Linked DNA regions of Homo sapiens. The protein of the gene in region 2 interacts with the protein of the main gene of each other region in a biochemical or structural test. Each region holds a gene or a part of one and is shown on either strand. Other genes may lie near its edges. The genes, in order: OAS3, IFRD2 and UBE2O.

Region 1 (7,105 bases), on a different chromosome or scaffold from region 2:
TTTCAATAGATGCCAAAAAGGCCTTTGAGAAAATTCAACAGCCCTTCATGCTAAAAACTCTCAATAAACTAGGTATTGATGGGAGGCATCTCAAAATAATGAGTTATTTATGACAAACCCACAGCCAATATCGTACTGAATGGGCAAAAACTGGAAGCATTCCCTTTGGAAACTGGCACAAGACAGGGATGCCCTCTCTCACCACTCCTATTCAACATAGTGTTGGAAGTTCTGGCCAGGGCAATAAGGCAGGAGAAAGAAATAAAGGGTATTCAATTAGGAAACGAGGAAGTCAAATTGTCCCTGTTTGCAAATGACATGATTGTATATTTAGAAAACCCCATCGTCTCAGCCCAAAATGTTCTTAAGCTGATAAGCAACTTCAGCAAAGTCTCAGGATACAAAATCACTGTGCAAAAATCACAAGCATTCCTACACACCAATAACAAACAAACAGAGAGCCAAATCATGAGTGAACTCCCATTCACAATTGCTTCAAAGAGAATGAAATACCCAGGAATCCAACTTACAATGGATGTGAAGGACTTCTTCAAGGAGAACTACAAACCACTGCTCAGTGAAATAAAACAGGACACAAACAAATGGAAGAACATTCCATGCTCATGGATAGGAAGAATCAATATTGTGAAAATGGCCATATTGCCCAAGGTAATTTATAGATTCAATGCCATCCCCAACAAGCTACCAATGACTTTCTTCACAGAATTGGAAAAAACTACTTTAAAGTTCATATGAAACCAAAAAAGAGCCTGCATTGCCAAGACAATCCTAAGCCAAAAGAACAAAGCTGGAGGCATCACGCTACCTGACTTCAAACTATACTACAGTAACCAAAACAGCATGGTACTGTACCAAAACAGAGATATAGACCAATGGAATAGAACAGAGCCCTCAGAAATAACACCACATGTCTACAACCATCTGATCTTTGACAAACCTGACAAAAACAAGAAATGGGGCCAGGCGCAGTGGCTCACGCCTGTAATCCCAGCACTTTGGGAGGCCGAGGTGGGTGGATCACGAGGTCGGGAGATCAAGACCATCCTGGCTAACATGGTGAAACCCTGTCTGTCTCTACTAAAAAATACAAAAAAATTAGCCAGATGTGGTGGCGGGCACCTGTAGTCCCAGCTACTAGGGAAGCTGAGGCAGGAGAATGGTGTGAACCTGGGAGGTGGAGCTTGCAGTGAGCCGAGATCGCGTCACTGCACTCCAGCCTAGGCAACAGAGCGAGACTCCATCTCAAACAACAACAACAACAACAACAACAAACAAACAAACAGACAAACAAGAAATGGGGAAAGGATTCCCTATTTAATAAATAGTGCTGGGAAAACTGGCTAGCCATATCTAGAAAGCTGAAACTGTATCCTTTCCTTACACCTTATACAAAATTAATTCAAGATGGATTAAAGACTTACATCTTAGACCTAAAACCATAAAAACCCTAGAAGAAAACCTAGGCAATACCATTCAGGACATAGGCATGGGCAAGGACTTCATGACTAAAACACCAAAAGCAATGGCAACAGAAGCCAAAACTGACAAATGGGATCTAATTAAACTAAAGAGTTTCTGCACAGCAAAAGAAACTACCATCAGAGTGAACAAGCAACCTACAGAATGGGAGAAAATTTTTACAATCTACTCATCTGACAAAGGGCTAATATCCAGAATCTACAAAGAACTTAAACAAATTTATAAGAAAAAAATCAAACAACCCCATCAAAAAGTGGGTAAAGGATATGAACAGACACTTCTCAAAAGAAGACATTTATGCAGCCAACAGACACATGAAAAAATGCTCATCATCACTGGCCATCAGAGAAATGCAAATCAAAACCACAATGAGATACCATCTCACACCAGTTAGAATGGCGATCATTAAAAAGTCAGGAAACAACAGGTGCTGGAGAGGATGTGGAGAAATAGGAACACTTTTACACTGTTGGTGGGACTGTAAACTAGTTCAGCCATTGTGGAAGACAGTGTGGTGATTCCTCAAGGATCTAGAACTAGAAATACCATTTGACCCAGCCATCCCATTACCGGGTATATACCCAAAGGATTATAAATCATGCTGCTAGAAAGACACATGCACACATATGTTTATTGTGGCACTATTCACAAGAGCAAAGACTTGGAACCAACCCAAATGTCCATCAATGACAGACTGGATTAAGAAAATGTGGCACATATACACTATGGAATACTATGCAGCCATAAAAAAGGATGAGTTCATGTCCTTTGTAGGGACATGGATGAAGTTGGAAACCATCATTCTGAGCAAACGAACACAGGAGCAGAAAACCAAACACCACATGTTCTCACTCATAGGTGGGAACTGAACAATGAGAACACTTGGACACGGGGTGGGGAACATCACACACCAGGGCCTGTCGTGGGGTGGGGGGAGTGGGGAGGGATAGCATTAGAAGATATACCTAATGTAAATGACGAGTTAATGGGTGCAGCACACCAACATGGCACATGTATACATATGTAACAAACCTGCATGTTGTGCACATGTACCCTAGAACTTAAAGTATAATAAAAAAATCATAGAAAAAAAGAATTCTATACACAGATACATCAAAGAGAAACTGAAGGATACTATGAACCAAGAGAAAGTCTTAAAAGCCACTGAAAGGGAAATCAAAAGAAAATGAACAAACAAAATTCATGCATGCAAACAGAAAACAGATCATTAACAACAAAAAATCAATAACTGACAGAGACTTCTCATCAGCAACAACAGGTAAGAAGACAGCAGAACTAAGGAAAACAAGTGTCAAGCATCCCATTCAAGCATGGAGGTGAAACAGAAATGGTTTTAGACAAAGTCTGAGAAAAATTTGTCACTCATAAACCCTTTCTGAAAAAGTACTAAAAGATGTATTTCTGTAAGAAGGAAAATGAATCCAGAAGGAAGAACAGGAAATCAAGTAGCAATGGTGAAAAAATTTGTTAATTATATTAATAGGGTTTAATTTGCATAGATTGTAAAAACAAAAACAAAAGAAATAATCTCCCCTATTATTAGTGTCTGGAAGTTTAGTTCCAAGATATTATCAAACCCTTGAAGATCATTATATCATTGTTGCTTCTTTCATTTTTGTCTTTTAGCTTTGTGCTGCCTGTAATGGGTACAATTTAATAACACATGCTAGTAAATAAAGAGTAGAGAGGGTACGTCAGGAAAATGCTGACAAAGGAGGACTAAAGCCCTATTAATGTCAGACAAAAGGCTTTAAGACAAAGATAACTTTCAGAAATGAAGATTATTACTTAATAATAAAAGAACAATCCAATAAAATATAATATTATGCACTTATATGTTCCCAATAACATAGCCTCAAAATATTAAAAACAAAATTTACAGAATTGCAAGGAACAAGGGATAAATATCCATTCAGAGCAGGAGATTTTAAGATATTTTACTCAGAAATTGAGAGACCAAACAAAAAATTATCCGAGCAAGAAGTCATAAGCTAGATCTAAAGGACCTATATAGAAGTCTGCATTCAGCAATGGAAAGCATGAGATAGAGTCTCACTCTGTCTCTCAGGCTGGAGTGCAGTGGTGCAATCTCAGCTCACTGCAACCTCTGCCTCCCAGGTTCAAGAGATTTTCCTGCCTCAGTCTCCCGAGTAGCTGGGATTACAGGTGCGTGCCACCATGCCAGGCTATTTTTTTTTTTTTTTTTTTTTTTTGTATTTTTAGTGGAGATGGGGTTTCACTGTGGCCAGGCTGGTCTCGAACTCCTGACCTCAAGTGACCTGCCCGCATTGGCCTTCCAAAATGCTGGGATTACAGGTGTGATCCACCATGCCTGGATGGAAAGCATGCATTCTTTTCAACCATGGGCAATCTAAGAAATGCCAACAAATTCCAAAGAATTGATATCACATAAAGTATGTTTTCTGACTACAGTTTTAAAAAACATAATAAGTAAATGCCGAAAGCAAACAAATCTCCAAAACATTCATTTGGAAAGCTACTTCCAAATATTCATGGATGAAAGAACAAACAATAATGTCATAATTAAAAGTACTAAATATTTAGACCGGAATGATAATAAAAATTATGCATGTCAAACAAAAGATTTGCCCTGTAGCTAATGTGATACTGAAAGGGAAATGGGTAGCTTTAATTGCATTGACTAAAACTGATAATTACTAAGCTAAGATTCACCTCCGAAAGTTAAAAAAAAATGAACCATAAAGTAAACCCTTTAAAATAAGGAAGAAAATTATAACATGAGAAATTTCTTTAAAAAAATACCAAGCAGATATGCCTACTGTTAACATTTGTTAAATCTGAATTGGGCTACATGGGTGTGTGACGTCTGTAGTTTTCTGTATGCTTGAAACATTTCATAATTAAAATATTTGTAAAGTTAAAGCACTAAATAGTTGTAAGATTTGATGGTGATGATTACTTTCAGTATCTCAAAGTAGTTTTCAATGCTTGGTCAAGTAGGAGAATTAGGATCACAAAGAGGATGGCAGGTGCCCCTGTTAGATGGGCGCCTGAGGTCCCTATCACTCTCCAAGGGACAGGCTGGGCGCCCTCACCCACAGCATCGAAGGCAGGCAGCAGGCTAACATCCGTCCAGCTCTTCAGGGCTGTGGACACCAGCTGGAACTGCAGAGCCTCAGGCACATTCTGCTCAGGAAACTGAAGGCTCAGGCTGGGCACCTGGTCCTGCCACCAGGATTCTAGCTGCGCTCGCATCTCATCAAGGATCTCTGCGCGGCGGGGCCCCTGGTCCTTGTAGTCCGTGAAGCAGTTGAGGAAGATGATGAGTTCAACATCACAGCCATCCCTTAGGTCTGTGCCCCGGCCAAATGAGCCCCCCTGTGGAGGGAAGAACAGCTCAGATCAGGGACCCTCTAGGAGCCTGGGAGTCGGACTACGATCCCATCACCTGCGCCCCATCTACAGCCTGGAACCTGCCCTCTTGCTGATGTCAGGTCTGGGGACTATGACAAAGGTCGACTGCATGGGTCCTGTGACCTCTTAGAATTGTGACAGAGAGTCAAGTTGTATCTGCCTGCACCTGCCCTCTGATCCATGAAGACTGAGCTAAGTCAGACCAAACTGCAGCAACAGATAATGGAGGTGGGATTAAGTAGGGGCAGCGACCAAACATTTTAGCCTACTATCTGCAGCATCTACTGACTGCACATCTGGGCCAGCAGTTGCAAATTGAGGTCCCAAGCCCTAATAGGGCCTGCAATTGTCCTCTGTTGCCCTGTTTCCATCAATTCCCTCCCTCCCTCCCTCCTTCACACGGGATATCACACATATCCGATACATGTAAGTGCTCACTAAATGTTTGTTGCAGGAAAGAAAGAAGAAGAGAGGATACAAAATTTCTGTTCTTCTGGAACTTACATGCTGGCTGGGGGAGGGAAGGAAGGGACCATCAATAAACAATAGGTCCTGAGAAAATGCTAAGTGCTGTGCAGAACAGAAAGGGGGCTGGTAGTGCAAGACTGCAATTTTATTTTTATTTATTTTTATTTTTGAGACGGAGTTTCACTCTTGTCGCCCAGGCTGGAGTGCAGTGGCATGGTCTCAGCTCACTGCAACCTCCGCCTCCCGGGTTCAAGCGATTTTCCTGCCTCAGCCTCCTGCATAGCTGGGATTACAGGGGCCCGTCACCATGCCCAGCTAATTTTTGTATTTTCAGTAGAGACAGGGTTTCACCATGTTGGCCAGGGTGGTCTTGAACTCCTGACCTCAGGTGATCTGCCCACCTTGGCCTCCCAAAGTTCCAGGATTACAGGCGTGAGCCACCGTGCCCGGGCAAGACTGCAATTTTAAATCGTGTGGTCAGGCCTCAGTGGACGAGGACATCAGATCAAGAAACTTGAAGAGGAGAGACAGAGAGAGCGAGAGAGAGAGAGCCAAATGGTTGGGGAAGAGAATTCTCATTTTCTTCTAGGAAGAGAAAACAGCCACTACAGAGGCCTTGAATTGTTCTGTGGACCTGGTAAGCTCAGAGCAGCCAGGAGGCCAGTGTGGAGTAAGTCAAGGCCAGAGGGAGACCAGGGCCCATCCTGTAGGACTTGAGGCCTCTGCGCCCTGTGAAACCATGGAGAATTTTGAGCTGAGGAGGGAAGTGATCTGATTCTTGTAATAGTGTTTTAAAAACTGTATCATTAAAAAAAAGAAAATCTAAGCTGGCACTTAAATATATTTTATTTAAGCCAGCAAATCATCCTTCCTGGGCCGTCCAGTTCCCCAGCCCAACCTCAGCTCCATTGCTGTAACTCCTTCCCTTCCCCACGCTGATCCCTCGATAGGGTCCCCCCTGTGTCTCCACTGGCCCAACTCACTTTACTGACTCTTGAGGCCTTGTGAACACAGTTCTCATGGAGGCAGCGCAAGATGATGTCAATGGCCTTTTTCACCTGCTCCTGGAACTGGGGGCTCGGCTTCAGGTGGTCCTGGATGAAGCGGTCCAGCTCCTTGGTGGGGATCTGAGACAGGTCCAAGGCCATTCCCGGCACAGAGGGGACGATGCTGGCTGCCCCAGTGGGGCCAGGAGCTGGGCATGAGGGAGGTTTGCTCCCTGCTCTTGGGTACACAGCATTGAGGCTCTTGCTGTTTTCAGGGGTCTTCTGGTTAGGGTCTAGCTGGATGGGGTGGCCCAAACCTGAGCATCCAGCACGTGGAAGGCCCTGGAAGGTCATTGAAGGAGCTGCCTCAGCCAGGCGCAGTGGTTTCTGCATCAACCCAATGCCTTCTCTCCCCAGCTCCCGCCCTTTGTACAGTCAGGGTGACTGAGGCTCAGAGAGGGGAAGTGGGAGGGCCATGGCTAACGCACATGGCCATCTTTGGGCAGAGTTGAAAAAGGTGCCTTTCTGGAGGGATAAACTGCAAAATGGGTGCCCTTGTGATGGGCAGAAAGGTCTGGTAACCAGACCATAGCTGCAGAAAAACAAAGGACTCCTTCCCCCGGGCAGTTTCAGCTTGAGCTTGGTGATAAGACTGTTTTACATGCCTGATGCCCTGTGCATTTTTTTTTTTTTTTTTTTTGGGACGGAGTCTTACTCTGTCACCCAGGCTGGAG
Region 2 (7,052 bases):
GGCTCAGAGCCGTCAGTGTGGCTGAATAAAGGCTCTCTTGGGTATGGCTGTGACAGTTTATTTGTTGATCCCCCTACCCTCACCTCTCACCTCTTCTGCAGGTCCCTTATCCCTGCAGAAGTCTCCAGATCCACCTTGGCCCTGAGGCCATTGATGGGAGGATGCCTGTCCTTTGCCTTTACCCCCCACCTGGCTCAGGAGACAGGGTGGCTGTTTTCTTCCCCATTCACTCATTACCATTCACTGAGCACCTACTGTGTGTCAAGCCCTGGACGGGACATAGGCAATGGGTAACTAGACAAACAGGCATACAGTAGCAGGATCCATGTGGCACAGGGGAGGTACAGAGGCTTTGGGAACCCAAGTGACTTCACTCCACCTGGGGATCCAGGAGACCTCCCAGGGCAGTGATGTCACAGCAGAGACCTGAGTGCTAGGTAGGAATTAAACCAGGCAGGTGAGGAGGTGGGAGCTGACTGTTCTTGGAAGAGGGAACAAGGTGGGCAGAGGAAAGAAGGGGACTTGTGACAGTTGTGGGAGGACACAGTGGTGTATTGACAAAGACGGAACATGGGAGGGAATGTACCCTCAGCTCACTGTAAAGCCCGCTTTGGTGTGCACCTGCCACTCGATGCCCGGGGCATCATAGCCAGCTTGCGGTGTGGCTGCTTTAAAAGGCCCAAGAGACCCCTGGGGAAACATGCTTTCCCCAGCTCCTCCTGTAAGGATGGGGAGGAGCTGGGGGAGCTTTCCTGGCTTTCCCTGCCATGTGGAAGGTGTGGCCATAGCTGCGGACTCTAAGCTTACACCCCCCTCTCTCCTGCAGGTTTCCATCCTTGGGGAATGACCACGCAACTGGGCCCAGCCCTGGTGCTGGGGGTGGCCCTGTGCCTGGGTTGTGGCCAGCCCCTACCACAGGTCCCTGAACGCCCCTTCTCTGTGCTGTGGAATGTACCCTCAGCACACTGTGAGGCCCGCTTTGGTGTGCACCTGCCACTCAATGCTCTGGGCATCATAGCCAACCGTGGCCAGCATTTTCACGGTCAGAACATGACCATTTTCTACAAGAACCAACTCGGCCTCTATCCCTACTTTGGACCCAGGGGCACAGCTCACAATGGGGGCATCCCCCAGGCTTTGCCCCTTGACCGCCACCTGGCACTGGCTGCCTACCAGATCCACCACAGCCTGAGACCTGGCTTTGCTGGCCCAGCAGTGCTGGATTGGGAGGAGTGGTGTCCACTCTGGGCTGGGAACTGGGGCCGCCGCCGAGCTTATCAGGCAGCCTCTTGGGCTTGGGCACAGCAGGTATTCCCTGACCTGGACCCTCAGGAGCAGCTCTACAAGGCCTATACTGGCTTTGAGCAGGCGGCCCGTGCACTGATGGAGGATACGCTGCGGGTGGCCCAGGCACTACGGCCCCATGGACTCTGGGGCTTCTATCACTACCCAGCCTGTGGCAATGGCTGGCATAGTATGGCTTCCAACTATACCGGCCGCTGCCATGCAGCCACCCTTGCCCGCAACACTCAACTGCATTGGCTCTGGGCCGCCTCCAGTGCCCTCTTCCCCAGCATCTACCTCCCACCCAGGCTGCCACCTGCCCACCACCAGGCCTTTGTCCGACATCGCCTGGAGGAGGCCTTCCGTGTGGCCCTTGTTGGGCACCGACATCCCCTGCCTGTCCTGGCCTATGTCCGCCTCACACACCGGAGATCTGGGAGGTTCCTGTCCCAGGTAAGTGGAAGCTGAGGTCTAGGGGTCTGAGTCAGGAGGTATGGCCCTGTTCTAGGAAGGTCCCAGGAGAAGACCTTGCCTAGGGGTTGGTCCTAATCTAGGCGTTCTCAGCGGAAGGCCCTGTCCTGGAGCATCTGATGAGGGAGGCATGGCTTTGCCCTGGAAGATGTTGAGGGGTAGGGAGGCCCAGCCTTTGGAGTGCTGGCCTGAGGGGAGATATTCTGAGTGGAAGGCCTGAGAAGCCACTCAGAGACTCGATACAAAGGGGCCCTACTTGGGCTGGGTGAGTGTCTCACACCTATAATCCCAGTACTTTGGGAGCCTGAGATGGAAGGATTCCTTGAGGCCAAGAGTTCGAGACCAGCCTGGGCAACATAGTGAGACCCCAACCTCTACCAAAAAAACATTTGAGACAGAGTCTTGCTCTGTTGCCCAGGCTGGAGTGCAGTGGCACCATCTCAGCTCACTGCGGCCTTCACTTCCTGGTTCTAGTGATCCTCCCACCTAAGCCTCCTCCCGAATAGCTGGACTACAGATGCATACCACCACACCCAGCTAATTTTTATATTTTTGTAGAGATGGGGTTTTGTCATGTTGCCCAGGCTGGTATTGAACTCCTGGGCTCAAGTGATTCTCCCGCTTTTGCCTCCCAAAGTGTGGGATTACAGGTGTGAGCCACTGTGCCCAGCCTAAAAAATTATTAGCCAGGTGTTATGCACCTGTAGTCCCAGCTGCTTGGGAGGCTGAGGTGGGAGGATTACTTGATCCCAGGAGTTCAAGGCTGCAGTGAGCTATGATCATGCCACTGCACTCCAGCCTGGATGACAGAGTAAAACCCCGCCTCTAAAACCAAACCAAACTAGAGAGTCCCTACTGTAGAGTTAGAATCAGATTGTGACAGTGAACCAGAAGAGTTTCTTGAATGTGGATGTGTGCCCACATGGATCTGGCCAGCCCAGCACTGGCTTAGCAGCTCTCTGCCTCCAGGATGACCTTGTGCAGTCCATTGGTGTGAGTGCAGCACTAGGGGCAGCCGGCGTGGTGCTCTGGGGGGACCTGAGCCTCTCCAGCTCTGAGGTGATCATTGCCCCTTTGAGCCTGCCATGTAGCACATGCTGGGGTCCCAGGGTGGGGGACGGCCATGTCAAGATTATAGAGCAGGCATATTGACACATATCTTCCCTTCTCCTCAGGAGGAGTGCTGGCATCTCCATGACTACCTGGTGGACACCTTGGGCCCCTATGTGATCAATGTGACCAGGGCAGCGATGGCCTGCAGTCACCAGCGGTGCCATGGCCACGGGCGCTGTGCCCGGCGAGATCCAGGACAGATGGAAGCCTTTCTACACCTGTGGCCAGACGGCAGCCTTGGAGATTGGAAGTCCTTCAGCTGCCACTGTTACTGGGGCTGGGCTGGCCCCACCTGCCAGGAGCCCAGGCCTGGGCCTAAAGAAGCAGTATAAAGCCAGGGCCCCTGCCACTGCCTCTTCTTTTCCCTGCTGCCACTTTTCCAGTCCTGGAACTACTCTGTCCCACTCTTGCTCTATTCAGTTTACAGTCAACCCTCCCAAGCACACACCCCGCTTCCCTTGGAATCCCTGAGGGGTAGAAGGGGCCAGAAAAAACGCTTATAAAACCAGAGGCCCTCTGAGATCATGTGAGTCCTCCATGGCAAGGAAGCAGTTCCAGGGAGAGTCAGGTTCCAGCTAGTTAGGGCTGCCAGCCTAGGGCTTTGTGCCTACACCTCACTAAGCCCATGGAGAGGTCACAGATGGGCCGTGCACGGGCAGATGGGCCCCAAAAAATCTTGGCGAAGGTCGGTAAAGTGCTAAGCTGTTGTCTGCACTCTTTCATCATAAAGTCACTTTTTTCCACTGCCTGAGGTTTGGCTGTTGCTCCTGTTATCCCAAGCTCTAAGCCCTTCCCATGGTCCCCAGACCCAGGCAGGGGTAGGTCTCGTCTGGAGTGTCCCGCTGCCAAGTGCCCTGAGAAGCCAGTCCTGCCTTGGTGCTCCACTGAGGGACGCTTCGGAGTTAACCACCGTGCACTTGTTCCCGACGCGGGGCTGGGGCGCGCGCAGGGCATTGTGGGTGCATAGTTCAGCCAGCGCGTCGTCGGCTGGTGGGCCCCAGGCGTGGACTACCATTCCCATGGTGCTCTACGCGCAGCTAGCCGCCGTCGCCTGCGCGCTCAGGCCTCTGGGATTAGTAGTTTTAGCCTCGTGGATGTGGGCCTGAATCGGATGGCCTGGAACTCGCCTTCCCGGCGACCTGTTTGGCAGGGCGGGGCGCCTCGCGAAGATGGTGGCGCGCGTGGCGTGTGGCTCCCGTCGTCTGGCCAAGTCTCAGCGCAGCGCACCGGCCGGCGTCTCGTTGGCCTGGAGCCCACACCCACCGGGTCCCTGACCCCGCGCCCCCCGCGCCCGGTTCCCGGCATGCCTCGCGCCCGTAAGGGCAACACGCTCCGGAAGGGTGGTCAGCGCCGTGGAGGAGGTGAGTGGGGTGGGGGGCGCGGGACAGCTGTATGAGCGGCGGGCGGGGGTCCTGCTGGATCCCCTTGGTTGTTCTCGAGGGCCCTGGGTGGGGAACCCCCTCGGCCAGCCCCACGCAGCTTCCCATAACTCTACCGAGGCTGGCACGTGCCCCAGCAGTCATTGGCCACGTGCGTGCCCAACTTGAGCTCGCTGCCCACTGCCTGTTGGGAGTCCGCGCTCCCAGCGGTGACCCGGCCAGCCCCTCCGGGCCTCAGTTGCCTGCTGGGTGGACAAACTCACCGGACAGGGCAGGAAGCCAGTCCTCTTGCCAAACCCTGATCCTTTCCTGGACTGGTCAAGGAAGTTGGCGGGAGTCCTGGCCTGCTCCGGTGAAGAGAGGGAGGGGGCTCTGTTGGGAAGCTACCTGGTTAGGGCCTTGGCAGCTTGGCAGGCCTGACTCCACAAGGTAGCTGAGTATCCTGGAGCCTGAGGCAGTCTTGGGACTCGCTTATCAGCTTAGACCAGGAGCCTATCTTAATGCGTTAAACACATATGTTTACTCTGCTGGGATGGGGTGCCTACCACGCACAAATTTATTTATTTTTATTCTTGAGGGGGAAGGGAGGAGGGCCGGGCACAGGAAGGAGGAAAATACCTAGGCACAACTTTAAACTGGTCACCACCATGGTGGGTTTTGGGTGGGGGACATCTAATAGGGTGTGGAACATGTTCACTGAGTGGTGTCAGCCCCAGACTTAGGACTCAGGGAGGCCTGGGGGGAAGTGCTTCTGGGTGAGTCCTGAGAGGATGGAGAAGAGAGCAAGTTGTACAAAGACCTGGCAGCTGGAGGGACCCCAGCGCAGTGGAGTGAATGAGGGAAGGCTGGGCTGCTCCGGCAGGTAGAATAGTAAGATAAAATGGGAGCAGGCTGGGCGTGGTGGCTCACACCTGTAATCCCAGCACTTTGGGAGGCCAAGGCAGGCAGATCACCTGAGGCCAGGAGTTCGAGACCAGCCTGACCAACATGGAGAAACCCTATCTACTAAAAATACAAAATTAGCTGGGTGTGGTGTCGTATGCCTGTAATCCCAGCTACTCGGGAGGCTGAGGCAGGAGAATCACTGGAACCCGGGAGGCAGAGGTCGCAGTGAGCCGAGATGGCGTCATTGCACTCCAGCCTGGGCAACAAGAGCAAAACTCTGTCTCAAAAAAAAAAAAAAAAAAAAAAGGTGGCGGGGAGCAGAGGCCAGTGCGCAGGCTGGACTTTGTCCTGCAGATGAGGGGTGTGAGTAGTTCTTAGAAGTAGGGCCAGCCTGGTGATCACACCCTGTCCAAAACTCTGCCACAGCAGCCAACCTTGCCAATGTCAGCCCTTGGCCCTGGACAGACCCCACACACAGGAGTGCACCAGCCCTACTGAACTGACCCTTGGCTTTGGTTTTTCATCTCTGAGAGGGACACCATTCTATCTTTTGGGATTATGAGGTCGAGTGAGGTACCCCCAGCCATCCCTCATCAGTAGAGGCAAGTTGAGTGTCCTATTCCACCTTCTCCAGGTGCCCGGAGCAGTGCCCAAGCTGACTCGGGTTCCAGTGACGATGAGGCAGCCAGTGAGGCCCGCAGCACCGCCAGTGAATGCCCCAGCCTTCTCAGCACCACTGCAGAGGACAGCCTTGGTGAGAGCGGGTGGAAGTTTGACAGGGGCTTGGTGAGGGCTCCATGGGCTGAGGACAAGAAGCGGTGCTGACCAGGTGGCCTTGCAGGGGGGGATGTCGTGGATGAGCAGGGCCAGCAGGAAGACCTTGAGGAAAAGCTGAAGGAGTATGTGGACTGTCTCACAGACAAGAGGTACCCCTGGCTGCCAGCCAACTCCTACACCCAGCTCCAAGTGTGATCAAGGGAGGGCTGGCCCATATGACCCCCCTTCTCGACCTCCCCCAGTGCCAAGACCCGGCAGGGTGCTCTTGAGAGCCTGCGCCTGGCCCTAGCGTCCCGCCTACTCCCCGACTTCTTGCTGGAGCGCCGCCTCACGCTAGCCGATGCCCTGGAAAAGTGCCTCAAGAAAGGTTGGACCTGGGGGTGTGTGGGAGACTTAAACTGGGCAGACACTGGCCCTTGCTGCATGGGCTGACTGGAAAGCATCCCACAGGGAAGGGCGAGGAACAAGCCCTGGCTGCTGCTGTGCTAGGCCTGCTCTGCGTGCAGCTGGGCCCTGGACCTAAGGGTGAGGAGCTGTTTCACAGCCTGCAGCCTCTGCTGGTCTCTGTGCTCAGTGACAGCACAGCTAGCCCTGCTGCCCGGCTCCACGTGAGTGTGCCTGTGCCCCATGAAACCCTTCCTGCACCTTATCCCTCAGCAGAGTGGTGGGTTCCCCCTATCTTCAGCCTCCTTTACTCTGAGGGGAGTGAGCTCCAGGGCTGGGAACCCAGGTTCACCCGCTGACCGTGGCATTGCATTGCCCTTCTCCCAACAGTGTGCTTCTGCCCTTGGCCTGGGCTGCTACGTGGCTGCCGCTGACATCCAGGTGAGGGGTCTTTGGGCACAGGTGGTAGAGCATCTAGGGCTGTAACTCTGCCTCTGAGCTCCCCTGCCTCTCTGTGCTCCTAGGACCTGGTCTCTTGCCTTGCCTGCTTAGAAAGTGTTTTCAGCCGGTTCTATGGCTTGGGGGGCAGCTCCACAAGTCCTGTGGTTCCTGCCAGCCTGCACGGCCTGCTCTCTGCTGCCCTGCAGGCCTGGGCATTGCTGCTCACCATCTGCCCTAGCACCCAAATCAGCCACATCCTTGACAGGTAGGGGTGGCTGTCCACTGGGAGGGGGAGGGGATCTCAAAGAGGCCCCCAAG
Region 3 (7,585 bases), on a different chromosome or scaffold from region 2:
ATAATTGGGTTCTCAAATCTCATAACTAGATTAGTCAATCTTGGTCTAATGGTCTTTCCTTTACGGCATACTATCACCTTGATGGAATTCATAAGGAGCAGGAGGTGAGAAGAAAAATCATCCTAAGCCACAGTTCTGCAAGGTCCCAGGACCCACCCTACCACCCTGCTTGGTGGTCAGTAACAGACCAGGAGACATTCAGCTAATCAGTCACCTGTATCTATAGCTCATGGTAACAGAGCTACCTATCAGGTATAAACTCCACCCTCCAAAACAAACCTATTCTAAATCCTAAAAGAACTATATCTTGCCACCCATAAATGGGCATCCCATTCCACCACTTCCTTGGAATTTCTGCGTCCCTTGGCTTTTGCTAAACCCAGATGCTACAATGACAAAATACCACCACCGAGCCACAAAACGGATTTCAACAAATTCAAAGCAAGTCACAGGAGGCCAGCTGCAAAATCTATCCAAAGTGGTGCCTCAAAGTTGTTGTTTTTTTTTTCTTTTCTTTTGAGACAGAGTTTAACTCTTGCTGCCCAGGTTGGAGTGCAATGGTGCCATCTCAGCTCACCGCAACCTCCGCCTCCCTGGTTCAAGCAATTCTCCCGCCTCAGCCTCCCGAGTAGCTCAGGTTACAGGCATGCGCCACCAAGCCCAGCTAATTTTGTATTTTTAGTAGAGACAGGGTTTCTCCATGTTGGTCAGGCTGGTCTCGAACTCCTGACCTCAGGTGATCCGCCCGCCTCGGCCTCCCAAGTGCTGGGATTACAGGCATGAGCTACCACACCCGGCCGTTGTTTTCGATTTAACTCCAAAATAGGTATTTCAAGTCAAACTCTGTATAATTACACATAGTGCAGGAGGCAAACGGAGCATAACTGCAAACAAAGTTAACCACCAAAGTCAAGACGGACGGGAACAACAACTGATAAACATAGCGGCTCCCAGTAGTGAGCTGGGCCTACCTCCCTGAGTCCTAGGGCAGGAGGCCACAACACAGAGGATGCTGCAGTCAAATGAGTTGCGTTCCAAAAATCACGAATCTCTCAAATAGATGGGTGGTGAAAAACATTCTTAAAAACTCACAGAAAGACACCAGCAATCATCTGGTGTCACACAGTATACAGCAATAACCCTCTTTTACTGACACAATACTGGGTAATTTTTAACAAGCATTCTGTTGCACAAAAGTAATATTTTCCAAATACTCTTGTAAATGGACTGATAATTTTCCTTCCAAGTCTCAGAGCTGTTGCCTGATTCACATTTCTCTGAGGGGAAGCAGGGTCCTGTGTGTGGATTTGTGTCTGTGGATGTATGTGCATCCCCAACAAAAAGACCCCGCTGGTATCAGCAGTCACTTCTGCCTCTAGGAAATGGATCATGTGCTCTTCTCTGGAGTGGGGCCTTTTTCCTTCTCAAGCCGTTGTCACAGACCCCGCTTTGTAGTTTGACATGAAACCCCGTTCCTCTGTAGTCTTTGTCTCCCACTGTGTGAGAAACCCAGATCAACTTCCAAAGTGCCCTCCCCTGAAATCAGACCTCTCAACCTCCCAAGGACCTAAAACAGCGTAGGCCTGATTCCTGCTTAGAAATGTTTTCTTGAAGGGGAGGGGAAGTAGGAGAGAAAGAAGGGGTGTGAGATACAGGGGGGTGTGTGTGTGTGTGTGTGTGTGTCAATTACTGATAGGAATTCACATTCTGGAAAACAAGCCACCAAACCAACCCGGGTTCAAGGTTTCGGGTTTATGATGACAAGCCTCTTTGTTTTGTAAAACTGCTATACTCACTAGCATCACCCCAAAAACCATACGGGAGTCAGATGTCTGCTTAACAGCTTCAGGTCAAGAAAAAACCTTCGGGTTTCCAAATTGGTGACTCCCCTCTACCCAGGGTTCTGGATTATTTTTTTCAAGGAGTCCATATGCACTTAGGAGTCATCAATCCCGGTCGCAGCTGTCAGAATCCTCCCCCCCAAGTACTATTCATACCGGGGCTCTGATTGCTAATGATTTTACTCACAAAGTTCCCTGCAGCAATTAAAAGGAGGCAGCAGGGTAAAACAAAAAGAGGCTGGGTGGCTTCACCATAATGCAGCCTGTAAGCTAGTGAACTTCTTGGGTTCGGCTGGGATTTTCACCTCTATCTTTGTTTTGGAATGCCCACAACCCCTCCCTGCACGGACCCGGCACGGCCTTCATTTCTGGATGCACAATGCAGTACCGAGCTCCTTGGGGGTCAGCAAAACGCCGCACTGGTGTAACGCCGAACGCGCCCCAGAACCTGAGTCCCCACGGGAGTCGGTCCACGTCTCTAAATCTCGAGGCCGACACCACAGCATAACATGTCTTAGAAGTCCCCTCAAGTCGGGAAGCCCAGGGCCCGCCCGGTCCCGGGCCAGCAGTGCCTGGCTGGCGTGTGCGCCCAGAGCTGCTGCAATGACTTTGCATGGAGTGTACCCTCCACTGGGGCTGTCCTCCCGCGTCGGCCACTGCAGTGGCACCGCTCCGGGCAGGGCCCTGCACGCCGTCCTTCCCTGGCCTCGGCCCGGCCGCCGACCCCCTGCCGCCCGCGCCGCCCAGCCCCCGCCCGCCGCACCTTGGTCTCCTTCACATGCTGCTTGACGCCCTCCGGGTACCACTGGACGCGCACGTAGCCGCGGCGCAGGGGGCTGGCCCGGCCCTCCTCGTGGCCCGCGCCCCCGGCCTCGGAGCACCCCGAGCTCCCGCGGCCCTCCTCCTCGCCCTCCGAGTCCGAGTCCTCGCCGTGGATGAGGCGCACCAGCCCGAAGTGCACGGAGCCACGGTAACGGCCCGACACCAGGTCGTGAGAAAACAGCAGGCGCTGCGAGCCGGCTTCTGGGCCGGAGTCCGAGGACGGCCCGGAGGCCGAGTCCGAGGCGGGCGCCGGCGCCGGGACGGGGGCTGCGGCTGGGGCCGGGACTGCCTCCGGGGCTGGAGCCGGGGCCTGGGCTGGAGCGGGAGCTGCGGGCGTGGGGGCTGCGGGATCCGCCATAACTGCTCTGCGCGAGTCTCGGGCGGCGGCGGCGACAGCGGCGGCGAACGAGGCGCGGGGAGGCGGGACCAGCGGGCGCCGGGGGCGGGGCCATAGCGCGCTGACGTGTCCCTGCGTGGCGCCGTCGTCAGGGAGCCGGGATGCAGTTGCTAGGAGCCACCGCCTCGTCGCTAGGGGACGCTGAAGATGCCGCGGGGGGCGGGGGCAGGATGGAATCCACTAAGAAGGGGCGAGACCAGTGAGGATTCAACTAAAGGGAGCGAGAAGGGGCGGGGACCCGGGAGGAGGAAGTGGAGTGGCCACCGAGGAAGAGGGGAGTGGTCGGGGTGGGGCACAGGATGGTGGAGAGACTGTCAACAACTTTTAATGAGCTCCCTTGGCGTCCTAGCCTAGCCCCCAGGCACTGGGAGCATTGCAGAAAGAGAAAGATACTGTCCCTGTCCTCTAGGTGTTTCCAGTCTAGTTGGGGAGACAAAACAAATACACATTAAATAGATAACAAACAACTCCAACTTGTAAGGCTATAATAGATACGTGTAGAGCATATGTATAATGCACTGTATTCAGGAATTCCAAGCAGTTCGAACGTCATGACCCCTCAGAAGTTGACCCAGAAGCTGGTGAAGGAGGCCCAGAGAAAGGTAACAAAAGGATCAGTGGTCCCAGTGGTTTGGCTACAAATCCATGCAGATAAATTCAAAGCTCCCTGAAGCCAAGAATGAATGGCAAGAGGTAGTATAGTAAGGTAGCTAAGAGTGGGGACCACGGATTCCAATTTTTGGCACTGCCACTTACTAATCTATAAAAATAGGCACACTGATTAACTTATTTTCATCTTAATTTGCTCATCTGTGAAATAGGGATGATAATAGCAATACTCATCTCATTGGGCAATTGGAGGATTAAGTGAAGTAGAACAGTGCCTGGCATTTAGCTCCTTCGATAAGCTTAACCATTGTTGTACTATTTCCAAACTCCCTGCCTAGACTAAATTCCAGACTGGCAGAACTGTTATGGTCTGCTCCATATTGTCATTTTAAAATATAAAAAGTAGGCCGGGCGCGGCAGCTCACACCTGTCATCCCAGTACTTTGGGAGGCTGAGGTGGGCGGATCACGAGGTCAAGAGATTGAGACCATCCTGGCCAACATGGCGAAACCCCATCTCTACTAAAAATACGGAAAAAAAAAAAAAATAGCTGGGCGTGGTGGCACATGGCTGTAGTCCCAGCTACTCAGGAGGCTGAGGCAGGCAAATCGCTTGAACCTGGGAGGCTGAGGTTGCAGTGAGCCCAGATCGCGCCACTGCACTCCACCCTGGGCAACAGAGCAAGACTCTGTCTCAAAAAAATAAATAAATAAAAATAAATAAAATATAAAAAGTAACTCTAGGGCCAGGCGTGGTGGCTCATGCCTGTAATCCCAGCACTTTGGGAGGCAGAAGCAGATGGATCACCTGATCACCTGAGGTCAGGAGTTCAAGACCGCCCTGGCCAACATGGCGAAATCCCTTCTCTACTAAAAGTACAAAAATTAGCTGGGCGTGGTGGTGTGCACCTGTAGTCCCAGCTACTTGGGAGGCTGAGGCAGGAGAATTGCTTGAATCTGGGAGGCAGAAGTTGCAGTGAGCCGAGATCATGCCACTACACTCCAGCCTTGGCAACAGAGCAGGACTCTGTCTCAAAAAACAAAAAACAAAAAAAAGGCTGGATGTGGTGGCTCTTGCCTGTAATCCCAGCACTTTGGGAGACCGAGGCGGGTGGGAGACCCGAGGTCAGGAGTTCAAGACCAGCCTGGCCAAGATGGTGAAACCCTGTCTCTACTAAAAATACAAAAATTAGCCGGGCGCGGTGGCAGCCGCCTGTAATCCCAGCTACTCGGAAGGCTGAGGCAGGAGAATCACTTGAACCTGGGGAGTGGAGGTTGTAGTGAGCCTAGATCGCGCCGCTGCACTCCAGCCTGGGCGACAGAGTGAGATTCCGTCTCAAAAAAAAGTAACTCTAGGCCGGGCACAGTGGCTCACGCCTGAAATCCCAACACTTTGACTGCGCCTGAAATCCCAACACTTTGGGATGCCAAGGTGGGTGGATCAGTTGAGGTCAGGAGTTCAAAACTAGCCTGGCCAACATGGCAAAACCCCATGTCTACTAAAAATCCAAAATTAGCTGGGCAAGGTGGCAGGCGCCTGTAATTCCAGCTACTTGGGAGGCTGAGACACGAGAACCACTTGAACCTGGGGGTTGGAGGTTGCAGTGAGCCTAGATCACACCACTGCACTCCAGCTTGGGTGACAGAGTGAGACTCTATCTCAAAAGAAAAAAACTAACTCTAATTTAATGTGTCACCTAAGTTTCAAAGGGTTTAGATACATTCTCAGAGGACAGATTTAAATGGATTGTTAAGGAAAACAAGATCTGGCCCTAACCTTTCTCAGTCAACATCATTTTTTCCACATTTTTCTACACGATCATCAACGAAAGACTAGTAAGTTGGATATTACAGTATTTAGGTTCTTCAAAGAAGGCAGAATCCCAGCTCTTTGTGTTGTTTACAGGATCCTGAAGATACAGAACTATGTTCATAGAAAAGTTGGTTGGGTGTGGTGGCTCACATCTGTAATCCCAGCACTTTGGGAGGCCAAGGCAGATGGATCATTTGAAGTCAGGAGTTCAAGAGCACCCTGGCCAACATGGTGAAACCCCGTCTCTGCTAAAAACACAAAATTAGCCAGGTGTAGTGGCGCATGCTTGTAGTCCCAGCTACTCGGGAGGCTGATGCAGGAGAATCGCTTGAACCCGGGAGCAGGAGGTTACAGTGAGCCAAGAACACATCACTGCACTCCAGCCTGGGCGACAGAGCGAGACTGCGTCTCAAAAAAAGAGAGAGAAAAGTTAAAAGAACATGCACAAGGTCGGGCACGGTGGCTCACGCCTGTAATCCCAGCACTTTGGGAGGCTGAGGCAGGCGGATCACTTGAGGTGAGGAGTTCAAGACCAGCCTAACCAACATGGAGAAACCCCATCTCTACTAAAAATACAAAATTAGCCAGGCATGGTAGCCCATGCCTGTAATCCCAGCTACTCAGGAGGCTGAGGCAGGAGAATCACTTGAACCCGGGAGGTGGAGGTTGTGGTGAGCCAAGATCGAGCCATTGAACTCCAGCATGGGCAACAAGAGCAAAACTCCATCTCAGGAAAAAAAAAAAAAAAAAGAACATGCACAAAACAGATGGCAGCCTAAGTACTTAAGATGTCTTAGGCCAAGTACTAATAGAGTATTGATGTAATATTGGGATCAGGGTGGTTGTCAATGGACCCAAATCTTAGAAAATTTATCTACTAAGATATAGAACAAATGGGCTGAATCAGCTGAAGGGGGAGTTAGGATATGATTTTGGGGCAAGGCTGGGTTCTCAAACCATGGCCTTCCCATCCCAGAACACAATGCCAAATGACCATCTGGAATCACTGCTGTAAGGACGCAGGTCCCTACTCCCTCTCCTGTAGAGACCTGGGAGATTAAACAGCAGTAACATAGTAGCTTCTGTTCTGCCTCCCATGACCCTTTCAGCCCTGTTTTCTTGCCCCCTGATAACATAGCATTTATTAAGCACATATTATTGACCAGGCATTGTACCAGGTACTTCCAAGCACATTATCTTGTCTGTTATCACAATCTTGGATATAGAGAGTTTTTAACCTCATTTTACCAATGAAGAAATAGGGCCCAAGGAATTTGGCGCCTAAGGTAACAGGTAGTAACCTGAGGAGTTTCCCCACTCTAAGGGCAGGGGCTTTTGTAGTTATGCTATTTCTTTAGGCTTCCCTCAGAAGAACTCCTGATTGCACAGGGGAGTCCATGTGTCTATGTGTCCCACGGCGGGATAAGGCAGTGCAGACCTCAAATCTGCTTTTTGTTTCATGGCAGGGTCTCACTCTGTCGCCCATGCTGGAGTGCAGTAGCGTGATCTTGACTCACTGCAACCTCCGTCTCCCAGGTTCCAGCGATTCTCCTGCCTCAGCCTCCTGAGTAGCTGGGATTACAGGCGCCCACCACCACGGCTGGCTAATTTTTGTATTTTTAGTAGAGACGGGGTTTACCATGTTGGCCAGGCTGGTCTCGAACTCCTGACCTCAAATGATCCACCCGCCTTGCCCTCCCAAAGTGTTGGGATTACAGGCATAAGCCACCGCACCCGGCCTCAAATCTGCTTTTGTTGTCAAAAAATCAAGTGAGTTTTGCATTGTACTCCAGAGTATGCCTATGTTTGTTGTTTTAATGTAAAAACTAATGCCCTTTCCTCCCTAATCATTGAGTAATATCGGCACTCCTGGAAGACGTGTTGTGTTTATTCTGCGGCTTCTTGTAATAATGGCTAATAATAGCTATCACTTATTGAGCTGTAACTTCATGCCAGATACTCTACTAAGTGCTTTACATAGATTATCAGGATACTGCCAGGTTGGAGGTAAGACTCCTTGATTTTACATGCTGATCTCTCCCTCACTAGACTAAACCCTTAAGCATGTGGACCATGTTGTATTTGTGTGTGTAACCCTGGTGCC

Evidence for each region.
Region 1: the proteins of IFRD2 (region 2) and OAS3 form a complex in vitro, tested with the Homo sapiens proteins (one study listed by BioGRID).
Region 3: of the proteins of IFRD2 (region 2) and UBE2O, one has a biochemical effect on the other in vitro, tested with the Homo sapiens proteins (one study listed by BioGRID).

Annotation. Positions count from the first base shown.
Region 1 is NC_000012.12:112,948,469-112,955,573, reverse strand, and holds part of OAS3 (2'-5'-oligoadenylate synthase 3), read right to left. Parts: intron 6,714-7,105; coding exon 6,369-6,713; intron 4,882-6,368; coding exon 4,599-4,881; intron 1-4,598.
Region 2 is NC_000003.12:50,289,394-50,296,445, reverse strand, and holds the start of IFRD2 (interferon-related developmental regulator 2), read left to right. Parts: upstream 1-4,016; 5' UTR 4,017-4,171; coding exon 4,172-4,229; intron 4,230-5,766; coding exon 5,767-5,886; intron 5,887-5,973; coding exon 5,974-6,058; intron 6,059-6,151; coding exon 6,152-6,276; intron 6,277-6,359; coding exon 6,360-6,517; intron 6,518-6,683; coding exon 6,684-6,734; intron 6,735-6,817; coding exon 6,818-6,999; intron 7,000-7,052. Other genes in the region: HYAL3 (hyaluronidase-3 isoform 1 precursor), read left to right, coding at 844-1,737, 2,725-2,814, 2,931-3,200. UniProt on the Homo sapiens protein: Ribosome-binding protein that acts as an inhibitor of mRNA translation by promoting ribosome inactivation. Associates with the P- and E-sites of the ribosome and inserts a C-terminal helix into the mRNA exit channel to preclude translation.
Region 3 is NC_000017.11:76,450,121-76,457,705, forward strand, and holds the start of UBE2O ((E3-independent) E2 ubiquitin-conjugating enzyme), read right to left. Parts: upstream 3,033-7,585; 5' UTR 3,022-3,032; coding exon 2,605-3,021; intron 1-2,604. UniProt on the Homo sapiens protein: E2/E3 hybrid ubiquitin-protein ligase that displays both E2 and E3 ligase activities and mediates monoubiquitination of target proteins. Negatively regulates TRAF6-mediated NF-kappa-B activation independently of its E2 activity.